4 linked regions of the Homo sapiens genome follow. The protein of the gene in region 4 interacts with the protein of the main gene of each other region in a pairwise test. Each region holds a gene or a part of one and is shown on either strand. Other genes may lie near its edges.

Region 1 (4,519 bases), on a different chromosome or scaffold from region 4:
TCTCTACAAAACTTAGCCAGGCATGGTGGCACGCACCTGTAATCCCAGCTACTCAGGAAGCTGAGGCATGAGAATTACTTGAACCCGGGAGGCGGAGGTTGCAGTGAGCTGAGATCATGCCACTGCATTCCAGCCTGGGTGACAGAGACACTCCGTCTCAAAAAAAAAAAAAAAAAAATTCATAATTCTACACAGGCATACTTAAAAAGGGCACTTTTTAAAAGTTTCTTTCTGTCAATTCCAGGTTGGAAGTGTATCCTCCCTTCTTATTTTTTCTAGCTGTTGGAGGTGTTTACCACCCGGTAAGTTTTCCAGGAGGTGTTCATCTATTTGGATAGTAGTTCACTGAGCTATTATCAGGGACAGAAGAAGGAAATAAACATTTAATGAATATCTTCAGTGTCTAGGCACTGCATATTTAAAAGGATTTTATTCAATTATTTCTTACAGAGTTCTTTAAAGGAGATGGGATTTTCCTCATATTTTACAGATAAGGAAAAGCCTCTCATATACTATTTAAACTTCACAAGGTCAAATAGCTACAGAGTAGAAGGATTAGAATTTGAACTCAGGTCTGTCTGGTTCTAAGTTTCATGTCTATAAGAGTTCATTTGTTATAGTAATTCATTCACACAACAAACTTTCACTCACCACCTGGGGTAAAGCAGTGATCAAAGCAGACAAAGACCCCTGGTTTCATAGAGCTTGCCTTTTTGTTGTGGGGTGTGGGGTGGTCACAGAGAAGAAGCAACCTAAGTAAATTACATCATGTGTTAGGAGGTGGTGAGTGCAGAGAAGAAAACAAAGTGGGGAAGGTGGAAAGGGGATGTGGAGTGGGATAATTTTGAATAGGGTGGTCAGGGAGGGGGGCTTTGCTGAGATGATAGTTAAGCAAGTATAAAAGGAGGTGAGGGAGCAGGTGCTGCACGAGTTTCCCCAACCTCCAGCCAGAAGACAAGCAAGGCCTGAGGCAGGCACCTGTCTGGTTTGTTTGGTGAGCAGTGAGAAGCCAATGGAGCCAGGAGAGGGGCAGCAACAGAGGGCAGAGGGGTGATGAGGCAGGTCACTGGGGACTTGCAGGCCTCTGCAGTATAGATAGCCCTGTGGGATGGAGATTTAGTCTGCACTTAAACATATCTAAATAAAGCAAGTTTATCAGCCTCTAATTAATTGCCATTTGGGTCTTGTCTTAGACAGAAGTGTTCCCCTTTTCTGAGGACAGATTATCTCCTGAAACCAAGTTCTGACCAGAGTGGCCCTTCAGACTTCTGGTTCTAAGCCTTTCCTAACCATCTGGTTCATCCTGAATGCCTTGTACTTTTGTTAAAAAGCTGCCAGAATGGCATATCTACTGCTTATGACCTTGAAGGCCTGCATTTTTTTCAAAGAAACATCTACTGCTCTTGTATCTCTTAGAAAATGTATCTTTCTGGTGCCTCTAAAGATCCCCATTCCTAGCAAGTGACTAGACTAGCTGATCTGAATAGCTCAGGTCTCTAGATTAGTCCTCATTTGGTGTCCCCACTCCATCCCCATTCCTATCACACATCCCTGGATCCCATTCCTTATGGGTAGTTCTGAAAAATAAGAGCTAGTTTGGGGACAAGCACCTAACAATTGTTCCTAGGTTGCCAGTCATTAGGCAACATTATAGTAAAGAAGGGCCTGGCAGAGACTAGAGCTGCTATATCGTGACTTGAGGGACTGGTGTTATTTTCATTTGTTTCACCCTCCTGTTGACATTTAATGTTACCCAAAATCAACTCAAACAAACAAAAACCCTGATGCAGTAACCTTATCCCTAACAGTAGCACTGCTGAGTGGGAAAGACACTGGGGAAGGCGGCCTTCTCACATGCTGTCTTCTGTGTTCTCTCCTTGCTTATTTTAACCAAGGAAGTCACCCCAGCATGACAGCCAAAGGGATGGATTTTTCATCTAAGTTTTTATTCTCTCTTCTCAAGGACATTGGGAACAGGGAGACTTTTCCCTCGAAGACCATGTATTCTGGGAGAAGCGCTCCCCTTCTTTCTAGTGGAGCTACACCCCCAGTGTAGCCTGCAGAACCACCTGAGCCCAGCCCTGCCAGTGACTGACTTCACATAGAACAGCAGCTGAGTCTTCAGTCAATCTCATGCTCAGAGGCCCATTTGAGAAAACGGCATTTCCCCTAGTCCTGACTTTGGGGCAGTTCTCTTTTCTGGCCTGCCCTGAGACCGGCTGGCCCACATGTCCTTCTCTTGAGCTCTGACACAAGTTCCCCAAGATGCCCAGGGCAAGTGGGGGGATTCCTTCTATCCCACCTGTCTAGGAGAAGGCCAATACTCATCTCCCAGGTCCACAAGCCAAGCCATTCATAGAAGAATCACAGATATTTTATTTTCCCGCTGAAACTAACTTAATTCTACCTAATTTGCGTGGGGAGTAGTTGGCCAAATCATCAAATTGTTAACTTTTTGCTAACATATTGTGTAATCAACCCTAGGTGTTAAAAAAGGTTTGCTTGTTTCTTTCATGCAAATACTAATGTAGCCCTTTTTTCTTAGCGTATAGCTTCTGGCCTGGGCTTGGCCTGGATTGTTGGACGAGTTCTTTATGCTTATGGCTATTACACGGGAGGTTAGTATATATTGACATTTGCCAAGGAAACAACTTTAAAATTTTAAATCCTATGCTGGCCAGGCACAGTGGCTTACACCTGTAATCCCAGCACTTTGGGAGGCGAAGGCAGGCAGATTGCTTGAGCTCAGGAGTTGGATACCAGCCTGGGCAACATGGTGAAACCCTGTCTCTACAAAAAATACAAAAATTAGCCGGATGTGGTGGTGCACACCTGTAGTCCCAGCTACTTGGGAGGCTGAGGCGGGAGGATTGCTTCAGCCCAGAAGTTTCAGGCTGCTGTGAACCATGATTACACTACTACACTCCAGCCTGGGAGACAGAGCAAGATCCTATCTCAAAAAAAAATAAAATCTTATGCTACTATATTTTTTTTCTTGGGAATTTGAGAAAAGGGGAAGTCACCTGATATTTAGGTGAAAGGTCTGTTTTCTTTTTATTAATCTTTCAATTGTAACGAAACTTATTTTTATTGAGCATTTTCTATGTGCCAACCACTACTCTAAGAACTTTGCATATGTTATTTAACCTTACAACAATTCTGTAATACAGATATTATTGCATTTTACAAATTAGGAAACTGGGACTCAGCATGATTAAAGCTGTAGGTCACAGAGCTACTAAGCGTAAACTAGTAAACTAGGAATCAAACCCATGCAGTCCGACTCCAGAGCCTCACCATTACTATACCTCCTATATCTGAGTAAGGAGGAGGAAAAGCCATTTTTAGCTGTACTTCTTTGAAACAGAGGGAACTCCTTCCAAAGGTCCTAGAGCAAAGTTGCTGTAATTATTATCCCATAATTTTCTAAGATCCAAGCAATACTACTGTGGCACGTTACTTGGCATGTGGTATCTGACTTGCCAACAGCTTCAGGCTAAAGAGTTAGTTAACCTCCTAAGGCCAGTTTGTCTAATGTACAACCTCAGATGCGATGATAGAATGGCTTGCGAATGTTGAAAGCATCATAATTCTGGAGCACTCCTGGTAACTTCTGTTCTTTCTTCTTTTTCAGAACCCAGCAAGCGTAGTCGAGGAGCCCTGGGGTCCATCGCCCTCCTGGGCTTGGTGGGCACAACTGTGTGCTCTGCTTTCCAGCATCTTGGTTGGGTTAAAAGTGGCTTGGGCAGTGGACCCAAATGCTGCCATTAAAGAATTATAGGGGTTTAAAAACTCTCATTCATTTTAAATGACTTACCTTTATTTCCAGTTACATTTTTTTTCTAAATATAATAAAAACTTACCTGGCATCAGCCTCATACCTAAAACTCCTGACTCTTACCACTCATTTCCGTTTGAGTCTGTATCTGAAATCAGTAGCCTAGTCCTACTAGATGAGAAAGGAGCCACAAGTATTGTGCCCTCTCCTCACCCTTCCAGCAGATGCTTCTGTAGTATGTGAGGTTGAGAAAAAGTCTGATTGTGGTGATGTAGGTATAGTCATGCCACAGTGATGAAAAATTAAAGAAAAATCTTCTAGCTCTCAGGATATGCATTATCACTTGCTACAGATACTCCAAGGCCAAAGGAATGCTTGAGCCTAAAAGTTCAAGACCAGCCTGGGCAACATAGCAAAACCCCATCTCTACAAAAAAATATACAACAGTTAGCCAGGCATGATGGCACATGTCTGCAGTCCCAGCTACTTGGGAGGCTAAGGTGGGAGGATCACTTGAGCCCAGGGTGTCAAGGCTGCAGTGAGTTATGATCACACTGCTGCACTCCAGCGTGGGTGACAGAGCAAGACCCTGTCTCAAATAAATAAAAATTAAGTTTCTATTAAAGATTGTTTCTGTTGCTTAAAAACTGAAGCAATAGACTAAATGTAAGATGAAGGTTAACAGAGATGAATGTAACTTGCTACATTTAGAAACAAAGATCTGATTGCCTACGTACAAAT
Region 2 (4,519 bases), on a different chromosome or scaffold from region 4:
TGTATCAAAGGGATGAGGCTTAGCGCCCCACTGTAGCTGCCCCTCAGTCCTCACCAGCCACAGGCAGGGGGATTGCAGGTGGGAGGAGGGGACCGGGTCAGGTGAGAGCTGGCACCACAGGGTAGGAGGGTGAGGCCAGATGGCAAGTGCCCGTGGCCAGATGGAAAAGCAGGAGGGGCAAGGAGTGGGTTTGGTGAAGGGTTGGGGAGGGACCTCTGTCAGCCCCAAACTCCTCCCTTCTCCAGCCCCATTTTATTTCTGTCTCCCAGACCCCCTCTGCTTCCTCATCCAAATTATTTTGTCCTCAGACTCCCTATCTACCCCCTCTGAATCCCGTCTCTTCATTTTTCTCTCCACAGCCTCATTCCAAACACAGTAGGTCCTTGGGCCTAAAGGATGCTGGCTCCAGTAAGCAGGTATGAGGTTAGATCTTAGGAAGGACTTCCCAGAGGAGGATGAAGATGTGGGGACTCACCCATGTAGTTGACAGGCAGCAATCCAGTCACGCATGACAACCAGGAAAGTGTCCAAGTCCACAGTGGCCTTAGGGCCCTCCCCATTGGGGTCCAGGCTGTTGGCCAATGTTTGGAGGCGTGCATCCTGGGGGCCCTGGCCTGTCACAGCCTCCAGGTAGGCCAGCACCTGGGCCACAGCCACAGTGCCTGTGACAGAGCATGCAGTGAGGGGGTCTGGGGCAGGTGGGGAGTGATGGGTATGGACTGGCAGCAGCTTGGGACCAGGATGTCACTGGCTAGGCTGGTGGCACTCCTGCTCCATGGCCCAGTGGAGACACACTGGGCAAGCCCTTTCCCCTCCTCTGAGTCCACTTTTTCACCTGGAAATGGGGCCCAGTCATCCCCCCATCACAGGGTAAACCAAAGGGGATGGACATAGGGACAGCATCAGCCATGCCCCACGCCACCATGGTGGCTGCCTCCCTCCCCTATCCCACGACCCCAAAACTCTGCCCTCTTCCATCAACGTCCCCCAAGTTTTCCTCATTCTAAAAGGCCTTCACCCCATTATCCACGTTCTTCTTCCTGAAGCTTCCCATAATCACCCACTTTGTTCTTACAATACCCCCAAGAGGGGGCCTTAGCCCAGTCTTCTCTCTGAGGCTCCCCAGTTCCCAGCCTCCACCCCATCCTGCCCGCACTGGTCCCCAGCACCCCTCATGCCCCCACCACCTGTCCTCTGAGGGTCACAAGCTTCGAACGTGGAGTTGAGTATTTGCTCCTCCAAGCTGACCGGCATTCCCAGCCTTGCCTCCTCAGGCCGCTCCCGGAGGTACACTGGGGAGACAAGAGGGCTCAGCTCACCAGTGGGAAGAATAAGGAAGGAAGAGGGGTGACCCCAGGTCCTCAGCCTCCTGGGCTCTGTAGCGGGGAGGGAATTCACTCAGAGCACTGAGAGTTCGGGCGGGTGGGGAACAGCAGGAAGCTTCAGGAGGGGGCAACAATGTGAGGGTCTCTGAGTTACTTCCCCCCATCTTTCAAACCAGGAAGTCCCCCCTGCTGTCTTTTTGTGTCCAATTGGCTTAGGAGCCCAGAGAAGAACGCTCTGAGATCACCCTTTCCTCCTCTCCTCTCCAGCCTCCCAGGCTGGACTCAGAGAGGGACAGGGTCGGGGAGGGCAAAGAAGAGAGGATTCTGGGAGGAGCTGAGAGTGAAGGGGGGGCCCAGGAGCCAGGAACAATCCAATAATGCATGGGCAGCCCAGATCGATCCCGCCTGCTGCATCTCCGGTCTCCCAGCCCACCCTGGGGACCAGGTCTCTCTCCTCCCTGCATCCCTAAGGCAAGGGTGGCATCATTGGAGCCCATGGCCAGGGGCTGAGACATGAAGGGATAGGGTAAACCAGACAGGGTGGGCAGTGAGGGAATGGTTATGAGCTGGATCAGTGTGTCAGACCTGGGTGCAGAGTCCAGCTGCACATCTGTGGGCAAGTCTCTTCTGTTAGAGCCTCGGTTTCCCTACTGGGGGGGTGGGTAGAGTGATCCTCCTCACCAGGGCTGAGTTAGCTCTGTGTATGTGAAGCACACGCATGTACACACACACACACACACACACACACACACACACACACGTCCTGGGGTCTATTTGTCTACTGTTGTAGCCACAACACCTGCAGATGGCAGGTGCTCAACAAATGCTCCATGACATAGGAAGAGATCCTCAACTGCAGGAGCCACTGGGCTGGCCCAGCCTCTCTCCCAGGGCTGGAAGTGAACTTCTAGGCTCCCTGCCCTGGCCTTGAACAGCTGGGTGCAGCAGCTCACTGAGCACAGGCTGCAGGACGGGGTAGATCCAGGGGGCAACCGAGGCTTGGCCTCAGACAAGTGGTGGCACCTGGGGCAATGGACTCAACTTCTCTTGGGCCTCAGTTTCTTCCTCTGGAAAATGGGGTTGGTGTTACCTCTTTCCTAGAGAGAAAATGAGATACAATCTAGAAAGGCTTTGGCAGAAGGCCTGGCACGTGGTGGGGACTCAAGAATAGAATTGAACACTTATTGAGCATTTAGTAGGTGCCAGGCCTTTTCTGAGCACTTTACATGAACTGTCTACTAGCATAATAATAATCGATGCTATTATAATCCCTACTTTACAAATGAGGGGACTAAGGCATAGAGAAACTAAGAACTCGCCAAAGGTCACCCTGTTTAACATATGAGTCAACTTTCTCATCCCTCTAACTCTTCCAGGATTCTCTGCAGTGAGTGAAATTTGCACCCCCTCTGTCTTGAACCTATGCTCCTAGGTTTGGCCCTTGGGAAGGGGCGTGTGGACTCACAGTTAGGGGGAGACCAGGGCTTTAGCCCCAGTCTGTTTTCCTCCTCTCACTGTTTTTTTTTTTTTTGAGATGGAGTCTCGCTGTGTCACCCAGGCTGGAGTGCAGTAGCGTGATCTCCGCTCACTGCAACTTCTGCCTCCAAGGTTCAAGCAATTCTCCTGCGTCAGCCTCCCGAGTAGCTGGGATTACAGGTGCCTGCTACCAGGCCCAGCTAATTTTTGTATTTTTAGTAGAGATGGGGTTTCACCCTGTTGGCAAGGCTGGTCTCGAACTCCTGACCTCAAGTGATCCGCCCACCTTGGCCTCGCAAAGTGCTGGGATTACAGGTGTGAGCCACCATACCCAGCCCTCTCAGTGTCTTTCTCATGTTACATGAACGAGGACCCTGAGGCCCAATGAGATGGTTCACCCAGGGCTGCTTGCCAGAGAGAGCTAAGCTGGGAATAGAACTCAGGACTGGCATCAGGTCGTGCTGGCTCTGAGGATCAGCATGTGTCTGAAGTCGCATCCCAGGATTCCCCCAGGGAGATGTCATTTCTGTTCCTCAGGAAGATCTCCTTCCTCAGTGTCTCTATCTCCTCTATGTCTCTGTCCTTGCCTCTTCGTTACATTTCTCTTTGGCTCTTTCTCTCTATCTTTCTCCCAGTCTCTCTTCCCCACGTCCTGTCTCTCTGCCTCCATGTCGCTTGTCCCCGTTTTCTTCCCTGTATCTCAGTCTCTGTGCTTCCCTTCCCATATCTCAGAGACTCTCCATTCCCTAAGTCTTCTCTTTCCTTCCTCTGCTGTTTCTTTTTCCCTTTGCCTTCCTCTGTCTCCATCTCTCCTTCTGGGTGTGTTCCTACCTTTCCTTCCAGAGCCTCTCGAAGCTGTCTCAGCCCTTGCCACCCGGATCCTGGTGGCTGCACGCCCTCTGCTGGTGCAGGTGAAGTTTAGATGGCTGTCACTAGACAGCCTGTCCTCTGGTTCCCACACCCTGGTGTCTACCTCTGACCCTCCTATCTGGAAAGCCTCCTGAGGTCTGGGGCTTTGTAGAAAAAGACGCAGGCTGTGCCGTGGATGCCTGGGAGCCTCTAAGAAAGGGGCCCTACCATCCCCATCAGACTGGGCTCTCTCACTTGGCAGATGAGTTTCAGAGAGGCAACCCCAGTGCCTCCTCCCCACCCTCTGAAGCCAGCTTTCACACCCGTTCAACCTACATCCGTCCGTTCACTCAACAGTAAGTGAGCTCCCACAGTGAGTCAGGAGTTGCTCTGGGGTCCCAGCCAACAGGGCAGTCTCTCCTTCTGGAGCACCTGAACTGAGGCGAGTGTAGACTGAAATGCTCTGTTAGTGTAAAGTACACGCTAGATCTTTAGGGCTTAGTATGAAAAAAACAGATTATCTGGATACATTTTTTATATTGGCTATATATTGGCTATATACATATATATATCTCTATGTATGTATATCCTGTATACATATATAATATACAGGGTATTAGTCTGGCTATATAAGGAAAATCCATTATCAACATTCATTTCACCTGTTCCTTTTTTCTTTTAAAAAATAATAAATTACCTATGTGGCTCATATTATACTTCCACAGGACAGCGCTGCTCTAGGGACTGGGAATACCAGAGTGAATAAAACAGACGCTGCCTTGTGGAGCTCATGCTCTAGCAGGGGAGACAGAGACAAAACATGACATACAGATGTGAGCACTGTGAAGAGAAATGAAGCGGGGCAGGGG
Region 3 (4,519 bases), about 33 Mb from region 4:
CAGATATCCAGCAATAGTCATACAAACCTCCCTTTTAAATTCACATCCTAGGACACAGAATTGTACTTGATGCTGCTCACTTTATTTATTTATTTATTTATTTATTTATTTATTTAGTCTTTCCATGCAATTAGTTTTATTCATTTTATTTTTTAAATTTTTTTTATTTCCATACGTTATTGGGGAACAGGTGGTGTTTGGTTACATGGATAAGTTCTTTAGTGGTAATTTGTGAGATTTTGGTGCACCCATCACCCAAACAGTATACACTGCACACAATTTGTAGCCTTTTATCCCTCACCTCCTTCCCACCTTTCCCCCTGAGTCCCCAAAGTCCATTGTGTCATTCTTATGCCTTTGCATCCTCATAGCTTAGCTCCCGCTTATAAGTGAGAACATATGATGTTTGATTTTCCACTCCTGAGTTACTTCACTTAGGATAATGGCTTATGCAAGGATTTAATGACGAAGAAGCCAAAAACAAATGCAATAAAATCAAAGATAAATAGCTGGGACCTAATTAAACTAAGGAGCTTTTGCACGGCAAAAGGAACAGTCAGCAGAGTAAACAGACAACCCATAGAGTGGGAGAAAATCTTCACAATCTATACATCTAACAAAGGACTAATATCCAGAATCTGCAATGAACCCAAACAAATCACCAAGAAATAAACAAACAATCCCATCAAAAAATGGGCTAAGGACATGAATAGACAATTCTCAAAAGAAGATATACAAATGGCCAACAAACATATCATTCACTTTTTAAAAATGAACCATCAGGGAAGTAATAAATAATCAAAACTGAATGAATACATTTTAAAATCACCCCTATTTCTTCTGATTGAATGTTGACCCAGATAATGGAAATGATTCTTCTGACTTTCAGACAGTAATCAGCAGACAAATTTCTTAACTCTCAAGCCAGGACTCTCTGCTGTACCACAAGGCAATTCATCAATACCCATTTTTCATTCAATTTTTTAAGTATCTATAAATGTAACATATAGTTATATATAAGATAATTTTTAGGACTTCATTTGTACTTGGCAAATGTGGTTTCTCTTAATCAGAAAGAGATTTTTGGCCTGGCATCAGGGCTCATGCCTGGCAATTCCAGCATTTTGGGAGGCCAAGCTGGGAGGACCACTTGTGGTCAGGAGTTCGAGACCATCCTGGAAAACATGGTGAATCCCTGTCTCTACTAAAAATACAAAAACAAAAATTAGGTGGGCATGGTGGTGCATGCCTGTAATCCCAGCCACTCAGGAGACTGAGGCAAGAGAATCACTTGAACTGGGGAGGCAGAGGGTTTCAGTGGGCAGAGATCATGCCACTGCACTCCAGCCTGGATGGCAGATCGAGACTTTGTCTCAAAAAATAAATTAATTAAGTAATTAATTAAATTAAAAAATAAAAAAGAGTTTATCGTCTCTAATTGTTTATATCAAGAATTGCAAATCAAAACCACAGCATGCAACCTTCCAATAACCTACAAACAATATTTTTGTCATCAAACACATCTCCAGCAGTGGTATCTAAGAAATAACATATAGCCAGGGGAGTACGAATACTCACAAACACAGCACCCCAAATCGGGTAGCCTGTGTAGAAGGTGAAGAAAAAGAAGTGCTTTTGGAAGTGGTATGGGTATTGCAAGGAACCCAGAAAGACACCCAAAGCCAGAATCATTGCTGCATTCAGGATCTGGATGGCCTGAAAGAAGAAAGGGGAAAAAGGCGTAACAGTCATATACTAAAGTGGACACTGAAAACAGGCCATTTTAATTTTCCTCAGAAAGGAGATGTCGGTGCTTGAAATGGTTAAAGTGTCAAGCCTAAATTAACAGAACGAGAGCTTATCTGAAAGAGTTTTTTATTCCACGCTATCCACACCAATTCCAGTGGCAGCATTTTGTCTTCACCTCTCCCCCACATTTCTGTTCATTCTCACGAACTCCTCTCAGAAAGTGGCAGGACAGTAAAACAGACATGATTGGTAAGGTAGATGGAGTCAAAGTCTCTTCCCAGCATGCTTTTGCATCATAATATGATGAAGGCAGACAGAGGATAAGCCATATCCTACTCAGCCTTTCTCTCAACCCAATTTTTAACCCTTCTCTCAACCCAATTTTTAAATTTAAAATATAGAATATAAGCTTCATAGAGCTCAGCCTCCTCAAATGGCTGGTCAAAAGGCACAAAACAAAAAATGAAGGGTCTTGGAATCTGTTCTCCAAGGTTTGATGTTTTCTACCATGAGAAAATGCCTTTGCATTTCTGCTCCCCAGATCTATAAGAAGTCCCTGTCTTTTCTCCAATCATTATTAAGTCAGTGATAAATAACTCAGAATTTCCTCCTTCTCAGCATAAGCAAGGTTTTCTACATGATACAGTTGGCTCTTGAACAACATTGGGGTTTGGAATGCCCACCCTTTCATGGTGGTAAATCCACGTAAAACTTATGACTTCCCAAAAACTTAACTACTAATAGCCTACTGTTGACCAGAAGTCTTACTATTAATATAAACAGTCGATTATCACATATTTTGTATGTGACATATTATATACAATAAGCTAGAGAAACTAAAAACGTTAAGGAAATCATAAGAAAGAGAAAATGTATTTACTATTCATTAAGTGGAAGTAGATTATCATAAAGGTCTTCATCCTCATCCTCTTCACGTTGAATAGACTGAGGAAGAAGAGGGAGAGCAGGGGTTGTTCTTGCTGTCTCGGGATGGCAAACAGAGGTGGAAGAAATCCACATGTAAGGGAATCCTCACAGTTCAAACGCACGTTATTCACAGGTCAACTGTATTTATTTTCTTCCCTCTTAAATCAGTGTTTAAACTAAGGCTGACTTACCCCAAGAACTTGTAATTTTGCTTTCTGATAATCTGGTGATCCATCTATGGGCTGGTAGACAGAAGTATTCAGCTCTTCTGGTCCCGCCTCACTGCCTGGGGTACCATGGGCAGAGGCTGACCCCAGCTCTGCATTATCAACTTCGTGGGAGGCCATTGGGGTTGTTTATGGCTGTGATAGAAAAGAAATCCAAAGCCTTCATGCTTTCCCTTTTTCCACTAGCTACTAAAATTTTGAGTGTTACAGAAGGGTTCAATTCTGTCCATACATTACAATGACTCTCCACAAATGGGACACCAGGGCAGAGTAACAGAGTTTGTACAATATTCAATTCTGTCTTGCCTTGGAGTAGTAGACATCATCGGGTCATTGTAGTAGGCCTTGGTGCTTCACTTAACTTTGGAATGGTAAAGAGCAATTTCTTTCTCATTTTGCATGCACTGATATATAGTCCCTGCCTTTCTTCAAGTCAGTCAAGGGCAACCAGACATATGGTTTCTCTGAGCAGTGGTCTCTTTATAAGAATAATGGCTTTAGTCACATTCCAGTAATAATAGTAGGTGTCATTTATTTAGTACTTATTACTATATGCCAAGCACTGTCTGGATGCTGTGAATGTATTAATATACTTAATCCTGTTATAATATTATTATTATTCCCGTTTCACAGATGAAAAAAATTGAGGTATAGAGAGACCGAGAAACTTACCCAAACTCATATGGCTTATAAATCATTTCAGATTTTACTAAAAACATTCTACTCTAAGGTCCAATATTTTTCAAATCACCACATTATATAGTACTATATAGAAGACGTCTTTCTGAGTACCAACATAGCATGGTAGAGTTTAAGCACTATGGAAGATCCAAATTCAAATCCAGATTTCATCATTTACTAGTTGCATGACCTAGTAATGGGAACCTCAGTTTTCAGAGTTTAAGCACTATGGAAGATTCCAATTCAAATCCAGATTTCATCACTTACTAGTTGCATGACCTTGTAGTGGGAACCTCAGTTTTCACTTCTGTAAAAATGGGAATAATTTTAATTTTATATTAACATTGCGAGAGTTGACTTTGATAATGTACGGAATTCTCAACCTGTGAACAGGTGGTATCAGCTTTTAACTTATACTCTGCCTTCTAACAAAAAGGACTTCAAGTTTGTATATATATAAGGGTCACAAAACAACCACCTCAATCATTACAGCTGAAAAATATGTATCACTAAAGTACACACAGAATGCTTACATTGGACTTCTGAATGTTGGGCAAGATAACTTCCTAATTCATAGTACCCTCCTACACAAAATAGTTGTAAAATGCTTATATGCTTTTATAACTGATGAGGGAGATGGCATGAGATGAACCATAAACAAACACATAAAATGATGCTGTATTCTGCCATAACTATCGATTGGGTTAAGAATAAGATCTTAATATAAATCATTCTACCATAAAACACATGCACGTGAATGTTCATTGCAGCACTATTCACAATAGCAAAGACATAGAATCAACCTAAATGTCCATCATTTGTAGACTGGATGAAGAAAATGTGGTACATACACACTGTGGAATACTATGCAGCCATAAAAAGGAATGAGATCATGTCTTTTGCAGGAACATGGATGAAGTAGAAGCCATTATCCT
Region 4 (5,247 bases):
CTATGAGTAACTAAGCCCCAGGCGCTAGATTTGGCTTTACAAATACACTATTTCAACTTAACCCTCCCCACAATCCTATGAGGCAAGATAACCTCTAAGTGGACTCAGAGGGGTTCCAGCAGCAAAATCTGCACCAAAACCCAAGTTTGTTCTAAAAGCCTTATTTTCTACTAGGGCTCACCTTCCTGAAAGTGACTTTACCAGTTCTTTACAGACAGGGAAACTGAGGTTCAGTGGGGTTAAGTAATCCACAATTCTGAGTGGTAGACTGGGAACTAAATGCTGATCAGGTAATTGCAAGACATGCAGACTGGGGTCTTTCTGCTGGAGTGGACAGGCTGTCCTTGCTCCATCCTCACAGCATCTGCCCTGGGAAGGGGACTCATCAGCCGCACAGCAGCCCCTGTGAGGAGCAGGGATGGCCGCAGACGCCTTCCTCCACCCTCCAGCCCCTGAATGAGAAAGTCCTTGGGACAGTGGCCTGCAGTCTTTCTCAGACCAGCAAGCACTGAAGTTCATAACAGAACCAAATAAAGGGGAGGAAAACAGAAACCTCAGAGGAACTTGATGCTAGCAGCCTCTGAATTTGGCAAGTATTTTAGCAAATCTCTTACCAGGGCCATTGGCCCTTGAGTGAGCATGAGGAGACACGGAGTCTCTCTGAGACCAGCTCACAGAGCGGGGCCGCAGAGCTCTGTCAGCCTGCTGAGTCCAGGCTCTCCAGGCATCAGCCAGAGAAGTCCTTCCTTTCAATAGCTGCTTCGTCTTCCAGAGAGACTCACTCCAAGAGGCCCCAAATCTCCACTAACAGCCTCTGCCATCTGTGAGCGAGTCGCGCAGCCACGGGGATTAGGAAAAGCACTTCTCTCCCCACAGATCTCCATAATCAGCAATGACAGGAAAACAGACATCCTCAGAACAGTAACCATGAATCTGACTTCCAAAAAGAGGCTGCTCCATCAGGAACCAGGACCGCCTGAGCAGTGCTGTTAGAATAAAATGAGGCAACCATTCCAGCCAATTTGCATTGAAAACTCAGCTGGAATGCCAACAATTTGCATCCTTTCAGCTAAGAACAAAACCAAGCCTGACCTTTACTTCCAGGATCACTCTGTATTGCTGTTTGCACAAACATACCGAGTTGAAGTAGGAAAAACTAACTGGTGTAAAAAGCACCTGTCGTCACAGTCTAATTAGAACTCTCACTTTCTAAAGCAAGCCAATTAATATACCCTTTCTGTCCCTCTCCATCTTAAAATTATCGGTCAAAAAGCATAATTTTACTCAGAAATGATGAGCAGAGGGAGTGCTGGGGAAGGTGGAGAGAGCCACAGGAGAAAGGGAAGGGGAGGGAAGAGGGGCAGACCCGTGGGCAGGGGGAGACCCACAGACAGCACCTCCTTGCAAAACATGATAAGCATCCAGTTTAAGGCTATTATCTCCTTTATTCAAAAAATAAATATTTCACTTTGATTCAACATATTTCAAATCACATTAAGCACAGAGAAGAAATACAGTCCCTTTGGAGATTGTGAACACGTGTTGGAAAGAAGCATGATCCAAACAATGGGAATGAGGTGAGTGTGGATTCCAGCTGTTTCCTGACCCAGAGGTTCCATCCCTCTTCAGGTGGAGCTACTTATCGATTTTTAGGAGAGAAAAAGAAGCACACACACACACACACACACACACACACACACACACACATGCGCGCGCGCTTTGAAGTCTGAAAGGCACATGAAGTGGACCATAAGGTGTATGGCACATTCACTGATAAAACATCCCCTATTCCCTCCCAAGAAAGCGGAGATACTTTAATCAAGTCAAAGACCAGAGAAGACAGGGTGCTCCTGCTTACAGCTCAGCAACATGAACATCTCTGAATATGAAAGCCATTTTTTGTTTGCGTCCCCCTCCCGCGCCTCCTCTCCCTGCCGATGGGGTCCGCAGCCGGCTGCGGGGCTCACTCGGTGATGGTGGGGCGCGTGGCCACGTACACAAACACCACGATCAAGAGCACGACCACGGCCAGCGTGGGCAGCACCACTGTAGTGATCTGCTGCCGGGCCTCCTGCATGGCTTGCTTCCGCTCCTTCTTGTCCTTGGAGGTCTCCTTCTTGGGCTTCCCTTTGAGCTGCCGCATCTTTCCTAGAGGATGCTAGGAGGGTGTGTCCAGAGGGATTCCAGGAAGGGCCACACTCCTCTTGCCAAGGCTGGAACCTCCTGTAGAGAGAACAACTGTGATAGTAGAGAATAAACCAAATAGAAGAAAAAATAAATCACTTAAAGGCAAATACACAACTAGGAAAAATATCTGCAACTTACATGACAAAGGGCTAAGAACAGAGGCCACACCAGGCTCTAAGTTCTCTTGGGATCAGCGCTCTAAGTAGTGGGCACTGGGTCACCGGTGTGCTGTGAGAGGGGCCTCCGCTCCAGCGCCAGCTGGACAAAGCCCTGGGTACCAGACAAATAATACTGTGTTCTGTACATGCCATGAGGTGAAAGGATTGGGAAGCACCAACTACGCCGCCTCCACTCAGAGGAGCGGCTCTCCCTTTCGTGGCTCTAGCTACTTGCTTTCCTGCTCTAAGTTCCATGATCTCCCCAGCCCATCTCCAGCATGGAACTGCAGGCAGCCTGCAGTCTCCAGGCACGTAGCCCCCTTCCTGCCCAAGCCAGGCCAGCCTCATTAAGGCTGCAGAGAGCCCACAGGCATCAACTTCTCTCATCTCTTTGTTGGTTCCTTGGCCCATTCATCCAAACCTTCCCAAGCACCCACCGTGTGCCAAGCATTACTCAAGGAGCTGAGGATAGAGATGAAGGACTCAGTTGTGTCCCCACAGAGGTCACCGTCTAGGGGGCATGATGGAGACCCGGGTCACAGTAATAATGAAGGGAGACGGCTGAGCCCACAGTCCTGCCACCCACTCAACCTGGGATTCTCCTGTTAATTCTGTAGCTCACGGAGGTGCCTAACAGGTGAAGTAGAACTTTCAGGGGCCAGAAGAATGAATACAAATGTTTGGATAACTACAGAGGAACATCTCTATAAAAGTCGGCTTCTTAGCTTTAAGCAGATGAAGCAGACTTCAGCTGATTTAAATCGAGTTTACTTAAAGGCCTTTGGCATCTCACTGATTCCCAGAAAAGCCAAAGAACCAGGCTCAGAAAATGGGCAGGACATTATGCTGTGCTGCCATAACTGGAGCCCAACTCACACTCCCAGTGTGAGGATGCCAGAGCCTGCATCACCACCGTCAGCACTGGACATGGGCACTGGAGCAGGAGGTGCCGAGCCACCATGACCACCCCCAAAAACTAGATGTGGCTGCTGGCACAGTCTCCAGATGAACTCGCCACCCCCCAGCATTCTGCATCACCAGCTTCCATGCATGTGTGACTAGCCAAGCCCCGGCCCATATGCCCACAGCCTAGCCTTCCAATTTGTACAGCAGGAAGAGTACTTTTCAAACACAGTGACGGAGTGGGGTTGGGTATCAGGGCTATATCAAAGGCAGATGTCCATTACAATATTCTCGGAGAGTAGCATGGAGTGAGGGGTTCTTGGAAGCAGAAGAGCACTGAATACCAATGTTCCTCTAGCAGAGGGACCTATGCTGTATACTGTCTGCCCTGTTTTGTCCCAGGGTAGTGGGTGGCCTGTCATCATCTTGAGGAGGAAGATGACATTTACACCTAAGTGACCGAGGTGGTAGAATGTGAACTCAGAGTTGGGAAAGGTCTTACTGACACCATCCTGTTTTTATGAGGGATACTTAATCTCTTACCATTCCTCTCACTCCATTTAGACCCCAAAACCTTTTTTGTATCATTCAAAATCAGGCAGAGTTTCCTAAGGTATGAGATGACAAATATTATTGTGCTAGGATGGCATAATGCCAATCAAAAGCAAACATTAAGGTTCAGCAAATATTAAGGGAAGCGCCATTTGGGCAAATGTATAATTTCCTTCATGAAATAAGGAACAGAGAGAAAAAAAAAAACACCTACTATTACTTTCTTAAGGCCTGAAAGGTATAGGAACCCCTGGCTTTACCAATTCTCCTTTTCAAGTCTTCCAAAGGACTTCCAGGCAGACTTGCCTTCAAATCCAGGACCAATCACTTACAGGCTAAATGGCTTTGAGCAAGTCACTTAACTCCACTAGGCCTCCATGCCATCATCTGAACAATGAGAACAGCTTGTCTTAAAGGATGACTGTGAGAATCTGGAAAACAAATGCATCTGTACCCAGAGCTCTGCCCGCCCGCAGGGACGCGGTACAGGTGGGCTGAGACATCTCCACCCATACCCGTGGGCGGCCCAGGGACGGGTGCACTGAGCTCCTCTAAGCCTGACTGCAGCCTTGAGTGATGCCCACCTTCGCGGGACCGTGGTGAGGATGGAGTAGGAAGCTGTATAACTCAGGGCTTGGCACAGAGCGGGCGGCGAATTCGTGCTAGCTGACATACCAACACCTGGAACACACCCCAACGGCCCTGTGAGTCAGACAGACAGGCTTTATTATCCCCATCACGGAAGGGAGGAAACCAAGGAGCAAAGGGGAAAAATGTCTTGCCAACAGTCACCCAGTTTGTAAATACCCCATGGCTTCTAACAGAGCAATGGACAGCATTCCTGTTCAAAGCTGCAAATGGCAGCCTATTCTCTCCGACACGGCCTCAAAAAAATTGTTTAAAAAGAAACAAGCCATTAGCAGCACTCTGATTCGTGGCCATTTCCTTGTGGAGCTAATGGCCTGTCGGAGCCCGCTGCTGTCTCTCCCAAATTCCTCACAGGACTGGCAGGTGGCACCCCAGGCCTGGGGCTAGCCATGCCCTGGCTGGCTGGCTAGCAGTGCTGGGCCTGACTTCCCTCCTGCACTTCATGCTGCTGTCTGCATCCACCCACACAAGTGTAGTTGACATTCAAAGGCCCCAGCCTCCACAATGACCAGTTCTCAACATTTGTAAGATGCATTCAGAAGTTCCTGGAGGCATGGAAAAAAGCCTCAAGCTGCTGGGGCCAGGGCCGGTCTGGTCAGGATTTAAAGGGCAAACATGCCCGTCTGAATCCTGGGTACTTCATCAGGCTTCAGGAGGAGCAGCGTCTCTGCTCTCACTCACCTGTGAGCTGGGGCAGCAAGGGAAAGCATCTCTGAGATAACGACTGGGGAGGGGACCCTATGGTGAAAAGGGACCAACCAGGAAAAAAGCTGGGAAGAGCACCAGGCAGAGGGCAGAG

Evidence for each region. Proteins that work in one complex are often made in the same cells at the same time.
Region 1: the proteins of SMCO4 (region 4) and MGST3 interact in binary tests that used the Homo sapiens proteins (3 or more experiments, as listed by UniProt).
Region 2: the proteins of SMCO4 (region 4) and KASH5 interact in binary tests that used the Homo sapiens proteins (3 or more experiments, as listed by UniProt).
Region 3: the proteins of SMCO4 (region 4) and MS4A3 interact in binary tests that used the Homo sapiens proteins (3 or more experiments, as listed by UniProt).

Annotation. Positions count from the first base shown.
Region 1 is NC_000001.11:165,651,734-165,656,252, forward strand, and holds the end of MGST3 (glutathione S-transferase 3, mitochondrial), read left to right. Parts: intron 1-244; coding exon 245-302; intron 303-2,545; coding exon 2,546-2,618; intron 2,619-3,634; coding exon 3,635-3,771; 3' UTR 3,772-4,403; downstream 4,404-4,519. UniProt on the Homo sapiens protein: Displays both glutathione S-transferase and glutathione peroxidase activities toward oxyeicosanoids, as part of cellular detoxification as well as synthesis of bioactive metabolites.
Region 2 is NC_000019.10:49,391,249-49,395,767, reverse strand, and holds part of KASH5 (protein KASH5), read right to left. Parts: intron 2,423-4,519; exon of another isoform or gene 2,369-2,422; coding exon of another isoform or gene 2,368-2,368; exon of another isoform or gene 2,349-2,367; intron 2,292-2,348; exon of another isoform or gene 1,936-2,291; coding exon of another isoform or gene 1,911-1,935; intron 1,293-1,910; coding exon 1,188-1,292; intron 663-1,187; coding exon 476-662; intron 1-475. UniProt on the Homo sapiens protein: As a component of the LINC (LInker of Nucleoskeleton and Cytoskeleton) complex, involved in the connection between the nuclear lamina and the cytoskeleton.
Region 3 is NC_000011.10:60,059,665-60,064,183, reverse strand, and holds part of MS4A3 (membrane-spanning 4-domains subfamily A member 3), read right to left. Parts: intron 3,039-4,519; 5' UTR 3,024-3,038; coding exon 2,868-3,023; intron 2,662-2,867; exon of another isoform or gene 2,630-2,661; intron 1,717-2,629; coding exon 1,579-1,716; intron 1-1,578. UniProt on the Homo sapiens protein: Hematopoietic modulator for the G1-S cell cycle transition. Modulates the level of phosphorylation of cyclin-dependent kinase 2 (CDK2) through its direct binding to cyclin-dependent kinase inhibitor 3 (CDKN3/KAP).
Region 4 is NC_000011.10:93,477,047-93,482,293, forward strand, and holds the end of SMCO4 (single-pass membrane and coiled-coil domain-containing protein 4), read right to left. Parts: intron 2,239-5,247; coding exon of another isoform or gene 2,144-2,238; coding exon 1,964-2,143; coding exon of another isoform or gene 1,824-1,963; 3' UTR 1,426-1,823; downstream 1-1,425.